Linked DNA regions of Homo sapiens. The protein of the gene in region 2 purifies or fractionates together with the protein of the main gene of each other region. This does not show direct contact. Each region holds a gene or a part of one and is shown on either strand. Other genes may lie near its edges.

The links. Proteins that work in one complex are often made in the same cells at the same time.
Region 1: the proteins of ARPC1A (region 2) and ARPC2 purify together in Homo sapiens (affinity purification with mass spectrometry; 10 studies listed by BioGRID and IntAct, with this or other methods). This does not show direct contact.
Region 3: the proteins of ARPC1A (region 2) and ARPC5 fractionate together in Homo sapiens (co-fractionation; 10 studies listed by BioGRID and IntAct, with this or other methods). This does not show direct contact.

Annotation. Positions count from the first base shown.
Region 1 is NC_000002.12:218,233,254-218,241,539, reverse strand, and holds part of ARPC2 (actin-related protein 2/3 complex subunit 2), read right to left. Parts: intron 7,189-8,286; coding exon 7,143-7,188; intron 2,877-7,142; coding exon 2,690-2,876; intron 2,150-2,689; coding exon 2,056-2,149; intron 1-2,055. UniProt on the Homo sapiens protein: Actin-binding component of the Arp2/3 complex, a multiprotein complex that mediates actin polymerization upon stimulation by nucleation-promoting factor (NPF).
Region 2 is NC_000007.14:99,356,160-99,364,445, reverse strand, and holds part of ARPC1A (actin-related protein 2/3 complex subunit 1A), read right to left. Parts: intron 6,107-8,286; coding exon 6,031-6,106; intron 4,902-6,030; coding exon 4,708-4,901; intron 904-4,707; coding exon 813-903; intron 1-812. UniProt on the Homo sapiens protein: Probably functions as a component of the Arp2/3 complex which is involved in regulation of actin polymerization and together with an activating nucleation-promoting factor (NPF) mediates the formation of branched actin networks.
Region 3 is NC_000001.11:183,619,995-183,626,718, forward strand, and holds the end of ARPC5 (actin-related protein 2/3 complex subunit 5), read right to left. Parts: 3' UTR 852-6,724; downstream 1-851. UniProt on the Homo sapiens protein: Component of the Arp2/3 complex, a multiprotein complex that mediates actin polymerization upon stimulation by nucleation-promoting factor (NPF).

The DNA.
Region 1 (8,286 bases), on a different chromosome or scaffold from region 2:
AAAATTAGTTTTGTTACTCTGGATTTAGCCCAATTTCTGAGCTACTGCATTTAATTCCCCTGTCAATTCTGCATAAAAACACATGAAATGCCTCTCTAGAGGCTTACTTTTAGGACCCAAGAGATACATGTATATTTATATATTCCTTCATCAAGTTCAGCACTAGCAAATGCTGAAGTGTCAATATTCCAATTTTTCTGTATAGTGACTCCCAAACTAGTTTCTGATTAATTAGCCAAAATACAAAAGCCACTAGGGATGGAGCAGTTGAGAATATCACTTTTGAAGATTTTCCTAGCCACTTAGAAGGCTATGCAAAGTATCTTTACTGTTAAGCACAGCTGTCTTTCAACTCTATTTGGCAAAAGAGATTCTGCTTCAGAATTTAAAAATCTTTACCACCCTGCCAAGGAACAGAATGAAGGTAGTAACGTTTTCAAAAAATTTTACCATTGTACTAGATTTTGAATGCTGAGCCATCTCAGAAGAAACCAGCCTGAATGTCACTTGACCAATGAACTCTCATGTCCATCCTAGAGGCAGCAACTAACTGGCCAGCAGACTGGTACACAATGACCTGAATGCAACTACACCAAAAATCCAATTACAAAATGCCCTGCTAACTCTCAGGACTCTCTTTTTTTTTGAGTCGGAGTTTCGCTCTTTTTGCCCAGGCTGGAGTGCAATGGTGCAATCTTGGCTCACTGCAACCTCTGCCTCCCAGGTTCAAGAGATTCTCCTGCCTCAGCCTCCCAAGTGGCTGGGATTACAGGTGCCTGCCACCACACCCGGCTAATTTTTTGTATTTTTTTAGTAGAGACGGGGTTTCACCATGTTGGCCAGGATGGTCTTGACCTCTTGACCTCGTGATCCGCCCACCTCGGCCTCCCACAGTGCTGGGATTACAGGCGTCAGCCACCGCGCCTGGCCTCTCATGACTCTTCTTAAGATGAGCTTCTTGTGAGGGAAGTACTCTATGGTGACCCATCCAAACTCAGGCTCAGTCTGTCAGTTCAACAACTCTACCTGTTCATGCGTTATCTACTACCAAATAATTGGCTATACAGTCCATTCTGAAAAGACCTTAGGACCAAACCAAGAGCAGCCACCTTACTAGAAATCTGAGGAAACACAAGAGGTTAGGGTTAGGAAACCTGACAAAGTTTTAGGTCAAAGACCCCACAGTAGGAAGGATGCATAACATTCATTCATAGTTAGTATGTTTAATTCTCAACTTACCCTTTAGTTCTGTCCTGCAAAACTAAACCACTGAGAAAAAAAATATCAGGCTGGGCGCGGTGGCTCATGCCTGCAATCCCAGCACTTTGGGAGGCTGAGGCGGGCGGATCATGAGGTCAGGAGATTGAGACCATCCTGGCCAACACGGTGAAACCCCATCTCTACTAAAAGTACAAAAATTAGCTGGGCGTGGTGGCGCGTGCCTGTAATCCCAGCTACTTGGGAGGCTGAGGCAGGAAAATTGCTTGAACCCAGGAAGCGGAGGTTGCAGTGAGCTGAGTTCGTGCCACTACACTCCAGCCTGGCGACAGAGCAAGACTCCACCTCAAAACAACAGCAGCAGCAACAAAAAATATTCACTGAGTTTTGTGGGAGTTGTCTATTAAATCTTCAACAAATTCTAACGTCAAGGCTGGGCATGGTGGCTCATGCCTGTAATACCAGCACTTTGGGAGGCCGAGATGGGCATCACCTGAGGTCGGCAGTTTGAGACCAGCCTGACCAACATGGAGAAACCCCGTCTCTACTAAAAATACAAAATTAGCTGGGTGTGGTGGTGCATGCCTACAATCCCAGCTACTCAGGAGGTTGAGGCAGGAGAATTGCTTGAACCTGGGAGGCGGAGGTTGCAGTGAGCCGAGATCACTCCATTGCACTCCAGCCTGGGCAACAAGAGAGAAACTCCGTCTCGAAAAAAAAAAAAAAAATTCTAACATCAGTAGAGTTGCTAGATCTCTTTCCTACGCTCATGGTATGTTTGGGTGCAAAGGTATAAGTCGCCATGCATGGGTTTCCCCCAAGATGTCTGCTCCATACCTGCATGAACACCTTTCCAATGACCACATCGTCGTCATCCTTAAACACTGTGCTGAAGACTACTGTGACTCTGTCCTTTTTAGACTCAACATACCTGAGAGGAACAAAATCCATGAGGATAAGTACAGAATCAGAATGGGGTTTTGTCAATAACTTGATCTACAAGTACATCAGAAGGCTAAAGTCATAAATCTCTTAAATCATAATATAAAGGTGTGCCAAATGAGATGATATTTATGGTCAACAAAGTCAGTGCACAAAATGAATGCCCTAAGAGAGGCAGCAGATGGAAATTATCAGAAGTAGATTTTATTGACTTGTAAATATAACATGGACCTATGGTCACCCTGCCTGCTGATTATCCAGGCTATACTCTTAAACATGACTCAGAACAGTGGTGCCTTAAAGGAAAGCACTGGATTCTCTTTCCACCATCTGTCAGCTCTCAGTATCTGGAGAGTAGGAGGAGTGGCTGATTTCTGCCCTATCATCTACTTCCTGGCTTAAGACATTTTATGAGAAAAACATTTTCACGCAATACAGCTGAAAGTTTGACCAAGCCATATTTCTTTCAGTAAGTGCCATGGTGGTGTAGCAGCCATATCCAGGCTTCAGGACCAAATTCTATACTCACATGGTCTCATCATCCCTATAATGGATAACTGCCCTGTTCTCTCCTTCCTTGCCCTCTTCTTGGAATTGGAAGTATTTTTCAAAGACAGAGGCAAAACAATTTCGCTTCAACATGCCAGCTTGATGCACAATGGAATCCTTGGATGCCGGAAGATTTTCAAGGTCATATAGCAAAGAGACATTGTATCCTGGAGGGAAAGAAAAAACAAGAAACAAAAAACAACCCAGCAGTTACATTTAAAAAAAAAAAAAAAAAAAAAAGCAGCATACTATCTATACCAAGTAAACAGAGACTAGAGGCAACTAAAAAAATCTTTTTTCAGGTTCTATTGACATTTTGTCTCATTATCTGTACTTTTAACCTGGGTAGAATATAGTCTATTTCCATCTATCTCACAGGGCAAAATGAGGTGAAATAAAATCTTAATTTTTATAAGATTCTTGTAAATATATATAATTAATGTTAATCAAAAATTTGAATCAGTATCAAAGATGACTAATTACAAATATGTAATGGGAGAAAGTCAGAACCTGGGAACTCTGATTGGAAATGTACCCTTCTAGACACAGTTGTAAAGGAGCCACATATATTTCTCTGATAGTTTAATGTGCCAAGTATCAGTATGGCCAGCAAATGGGTAGCTTTGTGATAATAAGATAAACCCTTCTACGTGCCACTGCAAACTCTTTATGAGGTGGCAGGGTAGAAAAACCAACTACCTGTTCATACATATACCTCCCCAATAGCTTTTATTGGTATATATTGTACAATTTTTAAAACATTTTACTTCATTTGATCTCCATAACCACCTTTGAAGTCTGCAGGCTAGATAAGGTTACTGTTTTGCAGAGGGAAAAGGAGATTCAAAGAAGTGACGTGACTTGCCAAATGCAGCATGACACATAAGTGTAGGGCACTCTATTTTGAGTCGAACAGAACTGGGTCCAAATCCTAGTCTTGTCATTTTGTGACCTTAAAAAAACTGCTGGGTGTGGTGGCTCACACCTGTAATCCCAGCATTTTGGGAGGCCAAGGTGGGCAGATCACCTGAGGTCAGGAGTTTTGAGAGCAGTCTGGCCAACATGGCAAAACCCTGTCTCTACTAAAATCACAAATATTAGCCAGGCATGGTGGCGGGCGCCTGTAATCCTAGCTACTTGGGAGGCTGAGGCAGGAGAATTGCTTGAACCCAGGAGGTGGAGGTTACAGCGAGCTGATATTGCACCACTGCACAACAGAGCGAGACTCCAGCTCCAAAAAAAAAAAACAAAAACAAAAAAAATTGCCTGACTTGTTAATTTCCTCATCTGTTAAAAAAAAAAAAAAATTGGTGGTGGGGGGCAGGTAGGGTGGTCTGGGCACAGTGGCTCAAGCCTGTATTCCCAGCACTTTGGGAGGCCAAGGTGGGTGGATCACCTGAGGTCAGGAGTTCGAGACCTGCCTGGCCAATATGGCAAAACCCCGTCTCTAATAAAAATACAAAATTAGCTGGGTGTGGTGGTACACGCCTGTGGTCCCAGGTACTCCGGAGGCTGAGGCAGGAGAATTGCTTGAACCCGGGAGGTGGAGGTTGTAATGAGCTGAGATCGCGCCACGGCACTCCAGCCTGAGCAACAAGAGTGAAATTCTGTCTCAAAAAAAAAGAAAAAAAGAAAAAGGAGCAGGGCAGGGGGTGCGGAGATAGGGGAGAATGTTGTGAGCATTAAAAGAATGTTCAATACTTAAAGTGTGTGGAACATGACAGGTCATCAATACGGGTGCAGAACATGGACTGAAACCATTGGATGACCTGCCTTTTTACAGCATGTCCACTATGAATTCCCAGAAGCCGGCTGGAACACTTGATTATAGAATCAAATGATTAATAAGTGTCAAACTGCCTAGAGATGTTTTTGCAAGAATATTTCTACATCACTGAGGATCATTTTATATTCTAGGCAACTGACGGGAATAACTTCACCAGAACTGTATGGCTTTCACACTTCTAAGTATCTGAAACCTCATTACTATTTCATTTTTTCCCAAAAGCATTCCTGAGATCTGTATTTTTTTTTTTTTGAGATGGAGTTTTACTCTTATTGCCCAGGCTGGAGTGCAATGGCATGATCTCGGCTCACCACAACATCCGCCTCCCAGGTTCAAGCGATTCTCCTGCCTCAGCCTCCTAGGCAGCTGGGATTACAGGCATGCGCCACCAGGCCTGGCTAATTTTGTACTTTTAGTAGAGACGGGGTTTCTCCATGTTGGTCATGCTGGTCTTGAACTCCTGAATGCAGGTGATCCGCCCGCCCTGGCCTCCGATAGTGCTGGGATTACAGGCATAAGCCACCGCGCCCGGCTGAGGTCTGTGTTTTTTGTTGAGCATGGGCTCTTCGGGAGGATGGGCTAAATCTTTGCTCTAGATAATGCTTAGCACATTTTATTTAATACTGGAGAGGCACTCCAGTATTAAATAATATCAATCATCATTCTATTTTGGGTACTTGAAAACCAAATAAGCACACAGATTACAAGGTTAGATTAAAAAAGAAAAGATTTAGAGCTGAGGTTTGCTAGTTTTAGGAAGCCAAATAAGAGCAAATAAAACTATAGCTAAGGTAAAGTCTGTCTTTAAGTAAGGCTTCTAACATGATGAACAGAATATACTGAGGATGAAGAGAAGTAAAAATCTAGTATAACTTGCTGAGTTTTCCAAACGTGCCTAGATAAACCCATTAAAAAAGAGGAGGAGAGACTCTACGGTCTTTTTTTTTTTTTTCTCGAGACTGAATCTTGCTCTGTCGCCTAGGCTAGAGGGCAGTGGCGCAATCTCAGCTCACTGCAACCTCTGCCTCCTGGGTTCAAGCGATTCTCGTGCTTCAGCCACCTGAGTACCTGGTATTACAGGTGGCTGCCACCATGCCTGGCTAATTTCTGTATTTTTTATAGAGACAGGTATCTCATTATGCTGCCCAGGCTGGTCCTGAACTTCTGAGCTCAAGCAATTCACTCACCTTGGCCTCCCCAAAGTGCTGGGATTACAGGTGTGAGCCACTGCACCTGGTTGAGACACTACTTTCACACACTTTTACATTTCACACTTCTATGAAGACAGGGTCTGCAATCTGGCAATGTCTATGATTTAGTGGGAGGTAGAAGGAGGCCCAGGGACAGAAACATAAACTTTCCATGTCAGGATGTTGGCTGTGACAAGCATGCCCAAGACTTTGGACATGATTTTTCTGTTCTAGATCTGTTTGTTTCTTTCTTTTAATACCTTGATTTTGCCAAAAGCCTACAGTGTTATCTTGGCTTTTATTTCTGTGACACATTCATCCCGCCAATTTGGAGATTAAAAAAAAAAAAGGTGCTGGGTATGGTGGCTCATGCCTGTGATCCCAACTCTCTGGGAGGCGGAGGCTGAGGTGGGTAGATTGCTCAAGGCTAGGAGTTTGAGACCTCCTTACTCTGTTTTGGCAGTATGGGCAGCAGACAGTGAGACTCTGTTTCTACAAAATATTAAAAAAATTAATTGGGTATGGTGGCATGTGCCTGTAGTTCCCAGCTACCGGAGAGGCTAAAGCGGGAGGATTGCTTGAGCCCAAGATTTGGAGGAGGCTGCAGTGAGCTATGACTGTACCACTGCATTCCAGCCTGGGCAACAGAATGAGACTGTCTGAAAAAATAGGTGAGGTGATGAAATAAGCTAGCACAAGTAACTGCTGTTAAGAGTGACAGAGAACTTCCTTCTTAGAAGACTTTTCTAATCAAGGTACCAAAGTTGTAATAGTTGAGTAAAAAATATTATGTTCCAATGGTCTTACTACCTGGTTCTCACTTTGGGGTCCTGCTAAATGCCTCAGAATTTGAGACATGCCACTGAATCACAGGGTAAAAAGGCTGTTCAGTTTTTCCACTTTAAACCTCCTTTTTAAAGCAGTATAACATAGCTGTTCTATTCAAGGATGACACGGTGCCTTTCAATTCCTCTGGCCATGAATGTTGAGACAACCTATTAGAAGACTGGATTAAGAAAGGGTCTGATTTTTATTACTTGAAATCACAAGAATAGTGTGGTGAATATTCCTCTTCTTTCTCCAAATATGTAGTATGCAGAATTACTAAGGGCCGAGGGTGGGAATCAATGTTTGCTCATTCTTTTCAAAGCCATTTTAATCACCATGAACAAACAAATGTGGCCCTCTGGCTGAAAGATTAAGTAAGAGTCATGTGGCCCCATCAAGTAAATGTTAAAAATGTCACACATCAATTTTGTACCTCTACTGTGTTCCATATTGGACAAAGCAAAGCCCCTTAAAAGCTATTTTTATGGACGGAGTTGAAATTAGGAATGGGCTCATGCAGAAATATTTGTAATAATATTTAAACGAAATCCTTTGGGTAAAAAAAGCATAATATAAAAAGGACACCTCTCTTCCCATGTCATTCCATAGTTGCTCACATGACTACATACCTGATTCTGGATTTACCAAGAAACTCCCGTACACCCTCTTTAATAACTAGAAAATAAAAACAAAACAAAACCAAATACGTTAATCCAAAGGCCATGATAATTTCATTATTTTTAAAGTACTGCACTTGCCAAGCTCTTCCTAAGTTGGCATTCTTCCTAACTTTCATTTGGTGGATGGGAAAGTAGAGACAGAGGGGAAGTGGATTTAGTCACCAAACAAGTCACAAAACTGAGATGAGTATCTTTTTATGCCTGGGACAGAGTGCAATGGCGCGATCTCGGCTCACCACAACCTCCGCCTCCTGGGTTCAAGTGATTCTCCTGCCTGAGCCTCCCAAGTAGCTGGGATTATAGGCATGCGCCACCATGCCCGGCTAATTTTTTTTTGTATTTTTAGTTGAGATGGGGTTTCTCCATGTTGGTCAGGCTGATCTTGAACTACTGACCTTGGATGATCCACCCGCCTCGTCCTCCCAAAGTGCTGGGATTATAGGCATGAGCCACTATGCCTGGCCGAGAATCTTTAATCAAAGCTCATCCTTTTTTAGGACTTGACTACACCCTTAATATGTTCTCTGTTCTCCTCCAGATCCTACATTGTACTTAATCATGTTTTGTTTTCAAGAGAGCAAAAGGATGCCAAATTCCAAGTGAGAGAACAGATTGTTAGTTATCAACCTAAGTACAGACTGAGCCACTAACCCAGGTGAATAAAGAGAAAAAACCAGGACTCTCGGGAACTGATCTGTTTGTCTGCTGATCTTGTATGCTTTAAAATTACTCAGTGCATAGCCAGCTCTTAAGGCAAAGGACAGTCAATAATGAAATCTTAGCTAGCTATTAATACTGGTGTCCAGAAGGTTGTATACTCTCCATGTCTTTCCCCCCAAACCAGAACCTACTGCTGGCTACTTTCCAGGTTTTTGAATTAAATGAAAACAACAACAAAAAAAACCCAAAAAACCAAGAACCCCTTTTATACCTTCTGCTATGGTTTGAATGTCCTTTCGAAAACTCATGTTAAAAATTATGATTTTTTTTTTTTGAGACGGAGTCTTACTCTGTTGTCCAGGCTGGAATGCAGTGGTGCAATCTCAGCTCACTGCAACCTCCATCTCCTGGGTTCAAGCGATTCTCCTGCCTC
Region 2 (8,286 bases):
ACAAAATTAGCTGGGCGTGGTGGCACATGTCTGTAATCCCAGCTACTTGGGAGGCTGAGGCAGGAGAATCGCTTGAACCCCAGAGGCGGAGGTTGTGGTGAGCCGAGATTCTGCCATTGCACTCCAGCCTGGGCAACAAGAGCGAAACTCTGTCTCAAAAAAAAAAAAAAAAAAAAAGAGAGAGATCTCCAAGGCTGGCATGGTGGCTCACGCCTGTAATCCCACCACTTTGGGAGGCCAAGGTGGGCAGATCACATGAGGCCAGGAGTTCAAGACCAGCTTGGCCAACATGGTGAAACCCCGTCTGTACTAAAAATACAAAACATAGCCGGGTGTTGTAGTGTGCTCCTGTAATCCCAACTACTTGGGAGACTGAGGCAGGAGAATCGCTCCAACCCGGGAGGCGGAGGTTGCAGTGAGCCAATATTGCACCGCTGCACTGCAGCCTGGGTGACAGAACAAGACTCCATCTCAAAAAGAAAGAAAAAAAAATGAGAGATTTCCAGTTTAATGTCTTACATTAGGACATTAAACTGTATACTAGATTTAACATTTTGTTTCAAGAAATGAGAAACATTCTTCTCATAAGAGTTTTGTAAAAATATTCACGGAGCATGGTGGTGCATGCCTGCTGTCCCAGCAGCTTGGGAGGCTGAGGTGGGAGGGCTGCTGGAGGCAAGGAGTTGGTGGCTGCAGTGAGCCATGATTGTGCCACTTACTCCAACCTGGGTGACAGAGAAGGAGCCTATCTCTTAAAAAAAAAAAAAAAAGTTTTAACACAAACAAAATTTGTTCTGTTAGGTAGAAAATACCTTGAAATCCCAAATTGTCATGGCTCCATCGATGCCAGTAGTGCAAAATTTGCGACAATCTTGCTTGTCCACCTCATAAATAGAGACTTGACTGAAAAAAAGCAAAGCAAAAGAGATCGTAAGGTATGTAGTGGAAGTGAACACAAACATTCCTGACTAATAGTGTAAGGGCAGCTTAAGGAAATGAATTATCTTCTTCTTTATTTTTTAAATAGAGCTGGGATGCGGGTCTCATTATGTTGCCCAAGCTGGTCTTGAACTCCTGGGCTCAAGTGATCCTCCTGCCTCAGTCTCCCAAAATGCTGGGATTACAGGCATAAGCCACCACGCTCCACCAGGAAATGAATTATCTTTTAACTCCTGATTATGAACTTATCCATGAACATTAGGCTGCAACAATCTGGCTCAGAAAATACCCCAAAGCATATTATTACCAGATGTCCAGGAAAGACAAAACTGGCAAGGGGAGAAGTTAAGAACTTGCCTTGGTTAGCGTGACCTGGGGAAGCAGGAATGACCCAGCCCACACAGCACTCAAATGCTGGGAGCAGGTTGTGGGTAGGACCACAGCCATGGCGAAAACAGTATTTTTGTTTGTTTTTAAATAAACCAGAGGCATGATGAAGCATGACTGAATTCCATAGCTCCAAACAAAACCTCTCAAATCAGCCTCCAAGACAGCCAGTGCAGATAAGCCAACAGCCCTCCTTGAGTCTGAAGTGAATCATCATAAATGTTAGCAGCAGACACACCACTAGATTCCGACCAAGCTAAGCAGGGGAACAGATAAATGAAACAACTTGTCTTAGCCTAATTATCTGGAAGCTTTCAAGACAATCATCCATTGCTCAGACAATATTTTTCTTTCTCCTTTGAGATGTCTAGAACTTACCCGCCTCTTCCCCGACGCTGGGAAGGGGATGGCAAACTATGGCACACACTGCCTATGCCCGTACAGCCTGTGAGCTTAAATAAAAAAAAAAAACAACAAAGGCCAGGTGCAGTGGCTCACGCCTGTAATCCCAGCACTCTGGGAGGCCGAGGTGGGCAGATCACGAGGTCAGGAGATCGAGACCATCCTGACTAACACAGTGAAACTCTGTCTCTACTAAAAGATACAAAAAAAAAAAAAAAATTAGCCAGGCATGGTGGCGGGCGCCTGTAGTCCCAGCTACTTGGGAGGCTGAGGCAGGAGAAGGGCGTGAACCCAGGAGGCAGAGCTTGCAGTAAGCCAAGATCGTGCCACTGCACTCCAGCCTGGGTGACAGAGACTCCATCTCAAAAAAAAAAAAAAAAAGGGGGGCGGGGTTTTACATTTTTATTTTATTTATTTATTTATTGAGATGGAGTCTCACTCTGTCACTCAGGCTGGAGTGCAGTGGTGCGATCTCGGCTCACTGCAACCTCTACCTCCCAGGTTCAAGCGATTCTCCTGCCTCAGACTCCCGAGTAGCTGGGATTACAAGCACCTGCCACCAGGCTGGCGAATTTTTGTATTTTTAATAGAGACGGGGTTTTGCCATGTTGGTCAGGCTGGTCTTGACCACCTGACCTCAAGTGATCCGCCCACCCCAGCCTCCCAAAGTGCTGGGATTACAGGCGTGAGCCTCTGCACCTGACCCGGCTTTTACGTTTTTAAATAGCTGGAAAAAAATTAAAAGGAGACTATTATTTCATGAAGTGAAAATTACATGAAATTCAAATTTGAGTGTCCATAAAGTTTGACGGGAACACAGCCACCTCATCTGTTTACATCATCTGTGCCTGCTTTCCTGCCACAACCAGAGTTCAGTAGTTGCAACAGAGACCTATGGCCTCTAGGAGTCTAAAATATTTACTATCTGGTCCTTTACAGAAAAAGTTAGCTGACACAGTTCTAGTGCAAAGAGCACCTAATTTCTGCAAATAAAAGTAGACTAATCAGCAAGGGTTTGTTCTTTTCATTTTTCATCTAGAAGTGTCAGAGAGGCAATGAGAGCTTTTTCTTTCCTTAACACTTGGTCTGTATAGAAACGTAAGAGAAACTCACAAGAAGTAACTCGGAGCCATTCAAGACAGAGAAACCTAAAGAATGGAGAAAAGGTGAGTTTTGCTATAGAAGGAGAAACCTGAAGAATGTGGAGAAAAGGTAAGTTTTGCTATGCCTTCAGGTTCTTTTTTTTTTTTTTTTTTGAGATAGGATCTCACAATGTAGCCCAGGCTGAAGTACAGTGGCACAATCACAGCTCACTCCTCCCAAGTAGCTGGGACTACAGGTGCGTGCCAACACAGCCAGCTAACTTAAAAATTTTTTTGTAGAGATGGGGTCTTGCTGTGTTGCCCAGGATGGTATTGAACTGCTGGCCTCAAGTGATCCTCCTGCCTTGGCTTCCCAAAACGCTAGCATTACAGGTGTGAGACATGGTGCCAGGTCTCTGGTTCTCATTTTTCAATACAGCATTTGCAGCCTATTTTATATACAGCTGCCCCTTCTCCGCTGAAGATGAAGCACAACCTGCATTTCATTGTAATTCTCTCAAACAGGAAGTCTAGAGGTTTCCATTACTTCTCCCACCATCAATACCACAATAAGATTCTAAACATAAAAGGCTTCTCAGTAAGGGAAAATCCCATGGGACCCAACTCTGAACACAGTAATTTAGAATATCAAGCATATATTTCTCCTCCAGGTGCCTTTTTTTTTTTTTTTTTTTGAGACGGAGTCTCACTCTGTCACCCAGGCGGGAGTGCAGTAGCTCAATCTTGGCTCACTGCAACCTCCACCTGCCCGGTTCAAGCAATTCTCCTGCCTCAGCCTGCCGAGTAGCTGGGATTACAGGTGTGTACCACCATGCCAAGCTAATTTTTGTATTTTTTAGTAGAGATGGGGTTTTGCCATGTTGGCAAGGCTGGTCTCGAACTCCTGACCTCAAGTGATCTGCCTGCCTCAGCCTCCCAAAGTGCTGGGATTAAAGGTGTAAGCCATCATGCCCAGCCTCTCCTCTAGACCTTAAAAATCAAACTTTCAGGCCAGGCACGGTAGCTTACGCCTGTAATTCCAGCAATTTGGGAGGCTGAGGTGGTTGGATCACCTGAGGTCAGGAGTTTGAAACCAGGATGGCCAACAGGGTGAAACTCCGTCTCTACTAAAAATACAAAAAATTAGCCAGGTGTGGTGGCACACGCCTGTAATCCCAGCTTCTTGGGAAGCTGAGGCAGGAGAATTGCTTGAACCCGGGAGGCAGAGGTTGCAGTGAGCCGAGATTGTGGCATTGCACTCCAGCCTGGGCAACAGAGTGAGACTCTGTCTCAAAAAAAAAAAAAAAAATTAAACTTTCTGGACAAAACACAATTCTGTTGTCTTACATAATTACATATACCTGATGAAAACCCAGTCGAGACACTCCTCAGCTTTGTCATCATGATGATAAGAAATTCTGTTCCTTTAATTAAATAATCTTCTTATTTGTATCCATTACTTGAAACGACAGCTACAGTTACCTTTTCCAACAGGCTGTAACTTCGCTTTCTGTTATGTGTGCACTACTGTGGGAACGCAGCATTCAGGAATGTCTCCTTTTGTTCTCGAGTAGCTGAGAAAGGGTACCCTAGGAAGCAGCTGCCCTGAGGCCCCACCACCTCAGATTGCAACAAGGTCTGCACTGCTCCTGCTGGCTGCTGCCTTGTAATCTGCACCTTGAAGGACAGAATGACCAGGTGGTGGCGACTCCCTCCCTACCACGAGCTGGAAATGAGAGCCTGGCGGTCGGGAAGATACAGACTTCTTGCTGCACTTGTCCCTGAAAGAATGTCTGGGCCTGAGGGGCATAGAGCTTTTGTAGGAACCCAGTAAGGAAACAGCGAGGGGCAGGAAGGCACCTTGTCACCTGACCACCTCTCTACAGACGGCACCTACGTGATGCTATTCTGGTGCAGCGTCTCCAAGGCCGTGTTGCGGTCCTCAGTTGTGGCTCTCTTGTCCATGTTGCGGAAGCGTTCCATGGCAGACATGTTGCGTTGGATGCTCTGTTTTGGAATATCTAACTTGGAGACGAAGGTCAGGCAGCCGCGGTCATCGTAGTTAAAGAGCATTGGGCAGCAGTCATGGCCCTGAAACAAGACTCAGTCAGTCCCTGGAGGATGCACTGCCCACCGCCCACCTCCTTGGCAGAGTGTTCACCACGACAGGCCTCTCTTACTCTTTTTTTTTTTTTTTTTTGAGACCGAGTCTTGCTCTGTTGCCCTGGCTAGAGTGCAGTGGCACAATCTCAGGTCACCACAACCTCTGCTTCCCGGGTTCAAGTAATTCTCCTGCCTCAGCCTCCCAAGTAGCTGGGATTACAGGCGTCTGCCACCATGCCTGGCTAATTTTTGTGTTTTTAGTAGAGACGGGGTTTCACCATGTTGGCCAGGCTGGTCTTGAACTCCTGACCTCAAGTGAACCACCCGCCTTGGCCTCCCAAAGTGCTGGGACTACAGGCGTGAGCCATCGTGCCCCACCCCCTCTTACTCTTAAAAGTGAGCGGCCGGGCACGGTGGCTCACACCTGTAATCCCAGCACTTTAGGAGGCCAAGGTGGGCGGATCACGAGGTCAGGAGATTGAGACCATCCTGGCTAACATGGTGAAACCCCATCTCTACTAAAAATAAAAAAAATTAGCCCGGCGAGGTGGCGGGCGCCTGTAGTCCCAGCTACTCAGGACGCTGAGGCAGGAGAATGGCGTGAACCCGGGAGGCGGAGCTTGCAGTGAGCCAAAATTGCGCCACTGCCCTCCAGCCTGGGCGACAGAGCAAGACAGTCTCCAAAAAAAAAGTGACCTCTGAGGCCGGGCACGGTGGCTCATGCCCGCACTTTGGGAGGCCAAGGTGGGTGGATCACCTGAGGATGGGAGTTCGAGACCGGCCTGACCAACATGGAGAAACCCCGTCTCTTCTAAAAATACAAAATTAGCCAGGTATGGTGGCGCATGCCTATATTCCCAGTTCCTCGAGAGGCTGAGGCGGGAGAATCGCTTGAACCCGGGAGGCAGAGGTTGCGGTGAGTCAAGATCACCCATTGCACTCCAGCCTGGGCAACAAGAGCAAAACTCCATCTCAAAAAAAAAAAAAAAAAAAAAAGTGAGCTCTGTTTCTTCTAAAAAACTGTTCTGCTTTGTGCTAGGGTGACAGAGCACACATTGTTCCCTGTCTGAGCATCACATACAGTGCACCCCGAGGGAGAATGAAGAAAAATACTCACAGCAGCCACGACGCTGTTCTCTGAGACAAATGACACACTTAGGAGCGGCAGGAACTCTGTCTTCAGAGTCGAGACCCTGAACACAAGAACATGTGTTATCCCAAGATGCAACAGACTATTAGCTTCTTTACAGACACAGATGATCACAAAGGACCCATTCTCACAGGGGCTTCTGCAGTATCAATGGGCACTTATGTTGAAAAGGAGCCCCTGACCTCAACTTGCAGGCCTCTCAAGACAGGGGCAGCCCTGGGTTCCGGCTCTGCCTCCTTCTGAGGCCCTGCCCACTGACGACAAACTGGTTCCCAAAGCCCAGTCTTTGCATCACGCCCTTCCACCCCCAGCACAGCTCTAAAGGGATCACCCCCATGATCCCACGGTCCACTTTCCCGGGCCACTTCCGCCTAAAGTGGCTTCTCCCTGCTCTTAGCTCCTAGAGCTCTTCCTGTTACTATGACTTGGCAGCAGACACCTGTGCTAGGACCTTCTCCTTGCCTGTGCTCACCGGAGCTCCGAGAGGGCTGTGACCACACAGATCTGTGCTGACGGCCAGGCACTGTGTTAGGAGCTAGAGCTACCAAGATGAACCAAACGGTCTTAGCCAGGAGCTCACACTCGAATGGGCCATGTGTGTGTATGTGTGCCTGCAGGGACATGTGTGTGCATGTAGTTATTTGCTCTTGAATGTGGCAAAGAGATTACACAGATATGGCAGGCAGACACACTGGCTGATGAGTTAGGAGCACCTCACTTCATGCAAGAAACGATGCATTCAAAAGCTGACTGTGGCTGGGCATGGTGGCTCACACCTGTAATCTCAGCACTTTGAGGGGCTGAGGTGGAAGGATTGCTGGAGGCAGGAGTTTGAGATCAGCCTGGACAACATAGTGAGACCCAGTCTCTACGAAAAATTAAAAAAAAAAAAAAATTAGCCTAGAGTGGTGGTGCACGTCTGTGGCTCCAGCTGCTTGAGAGGCTGAGGTGGGAGGAGAACTTGAGCTCAGGAGTTCCAGCCTGGGCGACAGAGAGTGTCTCTCTAAATTAAAAAATAAAAAAAAGCTAACTGTATATGTCTCAGGACACCCTTCATAAAGTTGGCATTGAATTGAAGAACTAATGTGTCATCTTAAGCCCTTAGTGCGGTATACCTGACTTTTACTACATGAGATATTTATGTTGGAGGAGTGGAAAGGTGGAGCATGTAATCTGACTTGCAGGACTGGAAAAGGGAAAGAAGTCAGTACGAGGGTAGACAGGGACTTGTAATAAGTGTATGCTAAGAACTTACTGTGTCACAATAAACCATATAAAAATCAAGTAACACTGGCATCAAAATACAAAAGTATTATCAAGTATTAAAAGGCAAATTACCAAATGTATATAAAAATGTATAAAATAATCTTATTTCTGTTAAAAATGAAAAGATATATAAGTGCCTGTTTATGTAGGGAAATCTTCTGAAAGACTACATTTTATAATGGAAGGGACAATCTTTCTTTTTTTCTTTCTTTTTTTTGAGATGGAGTCTCGCTCTGTCGCCCAGCCTAGAGTGCAGTGGCGCAATCTCGGCTCACTGCAAGCTTTGCCTCCCAGGTTCACGCCATTCTCCTGCCTCAGCCTCCCGAGTAGCTGGGACTACAAGCGCCCGCCACCACGCCTGGCTAATTTTTGTATTTTTTGTAGAGACAGGGTTTCACCGTGTTAGCCAGGATGGTCTCGATCTCCTGACCTTGTGATCCGCCCGCCTCGGCCTCCCAAAGTGCTGGGATTACAGGTGTGAGCCACTGTGCCCAGTCTTTTTTTTTTTTTTGAGACAGAGTCTTCCTCTTGTTGCCCAGGCTGGAGTGCAGTGGTGCGATCTTGGCTCATTGCAACCTCTGCCTGCTGGGTTCAAGCAATTCTCCTGCCTCAGCCTCCTGAGTAGCTGGGATTACAGGTGCATGCCACCACACCTGGCTAATTTTTATACTTTTAGTAGAGGCGGGGTTTCTCCATGTTGGCCATGCTGGTCTCGAACTCCTTACCTGAGGTGATCCACCCGCCTCGGCCTCCCAAAGTGCTGGGATTACAGGCGTGAGCCACTGCACCCGGCCTGAGGGGATAATCTTTAAAAAAATATGTAAAACTAGCTAAAAAATGCACATTTAATCCTGTTAGGAAAAACATATCATGTCTGAAATATCATGCTGTTTACACTGGGTGACTCTTACTGACCTGACAGGGAGTAAAGGTCACCCAGTGTGATTGATTTTTGAT
Region 3 (6,724 bases), on a different chromosome or scaffold from region 2:
AAGTAGCTGTATCTCAGCAGCAGATGGTTTCCCTCTCGTTAGAATAAACACTGGGTATTATATCAAAGTTAAGGAAATCTTTTGCTTTTGATCTGAGGACCCAGAAAATTTGGAACCAGTCTTCAAACTTAGTGGTAACATGGTATCACTTAATTAACTTGATTTAATACTAATAATGAACAGGATTCTGGAATGTTCACTAATTGTGTGAATTCTGAAATCGTGTTGTTTCCTCGGCTTGGTATTCCCTTCCTGTTTTCTATTTGCCAAACTCTTAGATAGCCTTCAAGGCCCATTGAAATGCTCCCATTTTCACACCTTTTCCTTGACATTCTCTCTTGGAGAAGTAATTGCTCCCCATCTGTTATTGTACATGAATTTACTCTCTTCTCTATTATAGCTTGTTTACTATTGAATTTTATTCATTGCTTGTGTATCTTACCTAGAATCTAGATCCCACAGGATAAGGATTGTATTTTAAATATTTTAAGCAGCCCTTAGCATGTAAATACTTGCCTGAATGACAGTGAAACTGTGCTTTCACGTGCGAAATACTTTGGGTAGTTTGTCTTAAGAAAACACCCTCAAGTCCTGAGAAAACCAACCAAGTCAATATATTAGGATAAGACTTCCATATGGGGACCAACTAATCTCTTCTAGTTTACATTTGAAGCAGCAATTGTTGAAAAGAAAAATATGAATATTTTAAAATAAAAAAACTAAAATTTAAAATCATAAAAACATCCAAGAACACTTCATGAAATTTCTATTTTTAAATTTTGGAGCCAGGAAAATCTAAGTATGACTTGAACTCTAAATGCCATAAGAAAAGATTAATAAACTCAATTAGATAAAAATAAAAATAACCTTTTTATTTATAGTAAAAGCTATTATAAAGCGAAACTCAAAATGCAAGAAATATTTGACATTCCTGTTGAAAAGAGCTCCTACAAATCAGTAAGAAAAAGACCATCAAAAGGGCAAAGAAAATATAGAAATACAAAAATATAGAAAAGAAAATACAACTGGCTATTAGGCATGTGAAAAGATGTGCAATCTCATTTACATTAAGAGAAATGCAAATATATGATACCATTTTTAAAACATCAGATTTGAAAAGATTAAAAAATGTTTTATGACAAACACATAGAATAGGTAAAGGGGTGGGAAAACATGCATTCTTCTACACGGCTGGAGAAAGTATAATTGATAAAACCTTTAAGAAAGGCAATTTAGCAATATCTCCCTTAAATGCCCTCCAACTGACCTTAACTTTCACTTTTAGGAATTGATCTACAAATAGGCTTGAACATATGTAAAATGACTTGTGTATAATGCTATTCACTGTAGCACTGTTTGTAACTGCAAAAGATCAGAAACCACCTAAATCAATAGGGAAATGGTTAAGTAAATTATGGTACATTTATTTATATAATAGAATTATTATGCAGTCATAAAAATAAAATTGTTATCGGAAAGTGGTCCCAATCCAGACCCCAAGTGAGCGTTCTTGGATCTCACACAAGAAAGAATTCAAGGCCAGTCTGTAAAGTTAAAGCAAGTTTATTAAGAAAGTAAAGGAATAAAGAATGGCTACTCCATAGGCAGAGCAGCCCCGAGGGCTGCTGGTTGCCCATTTTAACGGTTATTTCTTGATGATATGCTAAACAAGGGGTGTATTATTCATGCCTCCCCTTTTTAGACCATATAGGATAACTTCCTGATGTTGCCATGGCATTTGTAAACTGTCATGGTGCCGGTGGGAGCGTAGCGGTGAGGATGGCCAGAGGCAGAGGTCACTTTCATTGCCATCTTGGATTTGGTGGGTTTTGGCCAGCTTCTTTACTGCAAACTGTTTTATCAGCAAGGTCTTTATGACCGGTATCTTGTGTTGACCTCCTATCTCATCCTGTGACTTAGAATGCCTTAACCATCTGGGAATGCAGCCCAGTAGGTCTCAGCCTTATTTTACCCAGCTTCTATTCAAGAAGGAATTGCTCTGGTTCAAATGCCTCTGAAGGGAATAAGGAAGTTCTTTATGTATTGATAGGAAATTACCACCAAAATATACTGTTAATGAAAAAAGCAAGGAACAGAACACTATATATAGTATGTTAGTATTTATGTACACAAAGGGGTAAAATCTTATATAGGTATTTGCCTGTAAATGCATACACTGTATCTGGAAGGATGCCTAAGAATTAAGTGACAATAGTTGGTTGTCAAAAGAGGAACTAGGGTGGAATGGAAAATTACCACAGTACATATTTCTTACCTTTTGAATATTGAACAATATGAACAAATTATTTGAAAACGAATAAAAACTAAAATGAATAAAATACAGAACCATTGGCTAATGAATACACTGACCTTTAACTTAGCAAATTGAAGAAAATCTTAGTTGCCCTGGCATCTTGATTCAATTTTTGGAGAAACAAAAGGAAGTATGATGTTATTCAGAGGCATTGGCCATTTAAGTTATTCATTACCCTAAGGGTTGACAGAATTAGAAAAATCTACGTATAAAGTCAAGGACGGTGATATAAATTCATGGATATAATTTAATGGTTATCTTTAAGGAAAACAAGGGGTATTGGGTCACATCTCTGCTCTTAGAAGGTGATGCCACAGAATAATGAACAGATCATATAAACTCCCATAGTGCCACTGTTAGCCAGATATGAGCTGGAATTCTGTTCCTCAGCCACTTTCTCTGGTGACTTCTGGCAAAGCTAAACACTATAGGGGCTGCACGTGGTACTCATGGTGGCTCTGATTTCCACCTAAGGCTGATAAATTCCCTTCTTAACTGTCCACATTGAAGTGAATTGAAATTCTTTGTGACTAAACTTGATTGGCTCTAGGGTATTTGAACCCAAGAATTATTTTACTCTTTGTATAGTTCTCAATTTGTACTTCTGATGTGTTGCCCTATTCAGGTACCCTAAGAACCTGTGTATAAATTAAGGATTTCTTAGGTGACTTGGCTCGTTCAATGTTATGCAACCAAGAGATATTTGTTGAACATCAACTATGCCAAGTGAATGTGGGGATGAGTAAGAGCCAGCTACTATGACTTCAGGGGGCCCATACAGTCTAGCAGCAAGGTCAAGAGGGTGTGTCTTGCAGAGCAGGAGCTAACTGCTAGGCTGGAAAATACGGGAGTTTTAGAATGCTTTGGAATTCAGGTGGGTCATACACTACTCAATTTGTGTTTCATGTGGTGTGGATTCTAGGGAACTGTTTCAGAGAGAAATAAGAGATGTAAACATAGATTATTTATGTTGATTACTCTTACACACTCAAGTAACAGAAATGATAAAGGAAAATAGAAATGTTAAAGTGAATGCTGTGTCCCATGTTGCTTGTGGTTGGATCATCAATGTGGTGAAGTAGCACCACCTTGAGGCAGATGACATGCTGTACCTCTGTGGGCTTCCCGGGCCTCCTCCATATCTGGAATCATACAAGAGGCACCTGCACAGAACGTTTTCACATTGGGGTTTTCACATATTGTACTAGTGACATTGGGGTGAGGGGGAGAGGGAGTGGGGCAGAGGTCCCGCGGCAGGAATATGGACAGAAGCAGCCTTGTTTAAGGGCACTTGGTTCTACAGAGGCCGTTGGTCTGTTCCTTAATTGGGTGTGTTTTTCAATTATTTTGGTGCTTTTAACATATTTTGTCTGTAAGGGGATGTTAGTTGTAAATCTAAAGGAAAAATTGTGTATCTAAAAATTAATCAATCTGGCTGGGCGCGGTGGTCACGCCTGTAATCCCAGTGCTTTGGGAGGCGGAGGAGGGTGGATCACCTGAGGTCAGGAGTTCAAGACCAGCCTGGGCAACATGGTGAAACCCCATCTCTCCTAAAAATACAAAAATTAGCTGGGCACGGTGATGCGTGCCTGTAATCCGAGCTACTCAGGAGGCTGAGGCAGGAGAATCGCTTGAGCCTGGGAGGTGGAGGCTGCAGTGAGCCGAGATTGTGCCATTGCACTCCAGCCTGAGCAACAGAGCAAGACTCCATCTCAAAAAAAAAAAATTAATTAATTAATTTTCTTTTTTACCTTTATACATGGGGTTAAACTAAGTGATCATCAATGTCTATTTCAGCTAATAAAACATTATGATTTCCTATAATTTTACTTTCTTGAATCTATCACGGAGATAGTTTCTGATCCTGTTAATAATTTGCACCATCTAGAATTCTTATGTTAAAAACATTAAAACTGCAGCTGGGCGCGGTGGCTCACGCATGTAATCCCAGCACTTTGGGAGGCCGAGGTGGGCGGATCACGAGGTCAGGAGATCGAGACCATCCTGGCTAACACGGTGAATGAAACCCCGTCTCTACTAAAAATACAAAAAATTAGCCGGGCGTGGTGGCGGGCGCCTGTAGTCCCAGCTACTTGGGAGGCTGAGGCAGGAGAATGGCGTGAACCCAGGAGGCAGAGCTTGCAGTGAGCCGAGATCGCGCCACTGCACTCCCGCCTGGGCCACAGAGCGAGACTCTGTCTCAAAAAAAACAAAACAAAACAAAACAAAACAAAACAAAACAAAAAACATTAAAACTGCAAGAACAGTGACTATTAAACCCACTTTTAACTTTCTCTTTCTACTCTGTTCATTTCACTTGGACCGTTTGTCCTTTCTGCCCCTCCAAAGGATTAGTTCAAATTAATGTCTCACTTTAAATACTCTGATCCACCCTGATTTTGTTGTTCTCCCAACATTGACTAACTGCATTTACAGTCAAATGCTAAATTGTATGACGTTAATTCTCTTTTTTTTTGTATGACATAATTTTCAGGTGCTTAACCTTACTTCCCAATTAGGCTGAGAGCAAACTGGTGAACAAGATTCAGACCTTATTCTTCTGTTATGTCCTCATGATCCTGGGATCCACAGGAAATGCTTTAAAAAGAATTCGGTTAATTTGTACCATCTACACATTGATTTCACCCATGTTCATGTCCTTAAAATATCATCATACTTGTCATCAAGTATGACTGTTACCGAAATGGTGCTGTTACCCAATGACCAAGAAGGGGTATGTTTTCCATTTCTTCCCTTTTGTAAAATGCCAAAAAAGAAACCAAATAGTAAAAGCACTGAGATTAAAGGAGGAGAATGGGAGGTAAACAACTACTTTTGTGCTAAAAGTGTCCTATGGCATTTATATATATTTTTTCCGCAATTAATCCTATTCCCAACTCTTCACCAAGGATAGTACTGTGTCATGGTTACTATACCCTGGGCTGACATTTAGTCAGGAGGCAACAGTTGAACCAGTTGTTTCCAGCTAGTATCCATTTTGACTCGGTCTCTATATTATACTACTTGTTAAATATTTTTAGTATCTCCCCTCAGTAAAGCTGATAGACTGGCAGATTCTAAATACACCCACCCATTCTTGTGAACAAATATGAACTCCAGAATTTTTCCAAACGCTTCAGTTATGAAAGTGATGTTAAGAAGGATTTTATGAAAAAGCATTCAGTATCATTTGATTTTAAAGTTTGTAATTGGTTATGCTATACCTACTTGACTACCTCTAATACCTATTGGCTAAGGCACAGTGGCATGTGCCTGTAGTTCCACCTTTTCGGGAGGCTGAGGCAGGACTGCTTGAAGCCAGGAGTTTGAGGCCTCAGTGCACTATGATCACACCTGTGAACAGCCACTGCACTCCAGCCTGGGCAGCATAGCAAGTCCCCATCTCTAAGTAATATTTAAGAATAATACCTATTGCTTAGCTTATCTTCACCCATAGGACCCTGAATTGCCTGGAAGTGTTTTAAAGTGGGAATCTAGTCAGGTGAAGATCGAAAGCAAACAGAAGTCGCTGTGAGTAGGTAAGTACAAGAAATAGATTTGAGGTGAAAGAAAGAGAATTTTGGAGGCTGGGAGTGAATGACTGCAGCTGCTAAGCTACTTTGCACTTTCTAGTCTAGGTCTTTGGGCAGTGATACTACATATAGGTATTCAGCTGCCATCCAGAAGGCTATGGAATCACTCCAAAGGCTTCAGTAGTGCTCTGACATCATTCATGACTCTCTTCTCTATCATCTTATATCTATATAGTCTTATAAAAACCCTACCAAACTGTTCTTGTTAAGAGTACAGTACTTGGTGGTAGAAGCAGAAAACCTTTCCTCTTAATTAACCATACATTCATAATTGTTAAAGTCAGAGAAAAATAAATTATTCAACACTGACATTTTATTTTCTGAAGTTTTATCATTTTTACAAAACAAAACAAAATGAAACAAAAAGCAGGTATCAAAAACAGCAAAGAGTTTATAGAATTTCTGCACCAGTTTGCACATAAGTCAGTGATTACAAAACTGGCATCCAATGTAAATACTAAGCACAAGCTCACTTCCCTCTTGGTCAGGTGGTTTGTTTTAGAGCTACTCGATATTTATAACTTTTTATAAGCACCGGTCATTTTTTGAGAACTGATTTGGTTTGTCCAACAAAGTAAACAATTTTTTGCTGTGTGGCAGTTTCTTTTTTTAGAAAACACTGAGCTAAAACACAGAATGTGTATTTGTTTGGATCTGAACCAAATCTTTTGAGATCCCAACTACCCTGAAGAACACTGAAGACATTTACGGGGCATATTAAATGGTATCTTAAATACTAGTTGTATACCTCATAATGTCTAAGGCAGCTATTATATTTCTAAAGAAAGTAGCATTTCATTCAGAGGCTGCCCAGAGT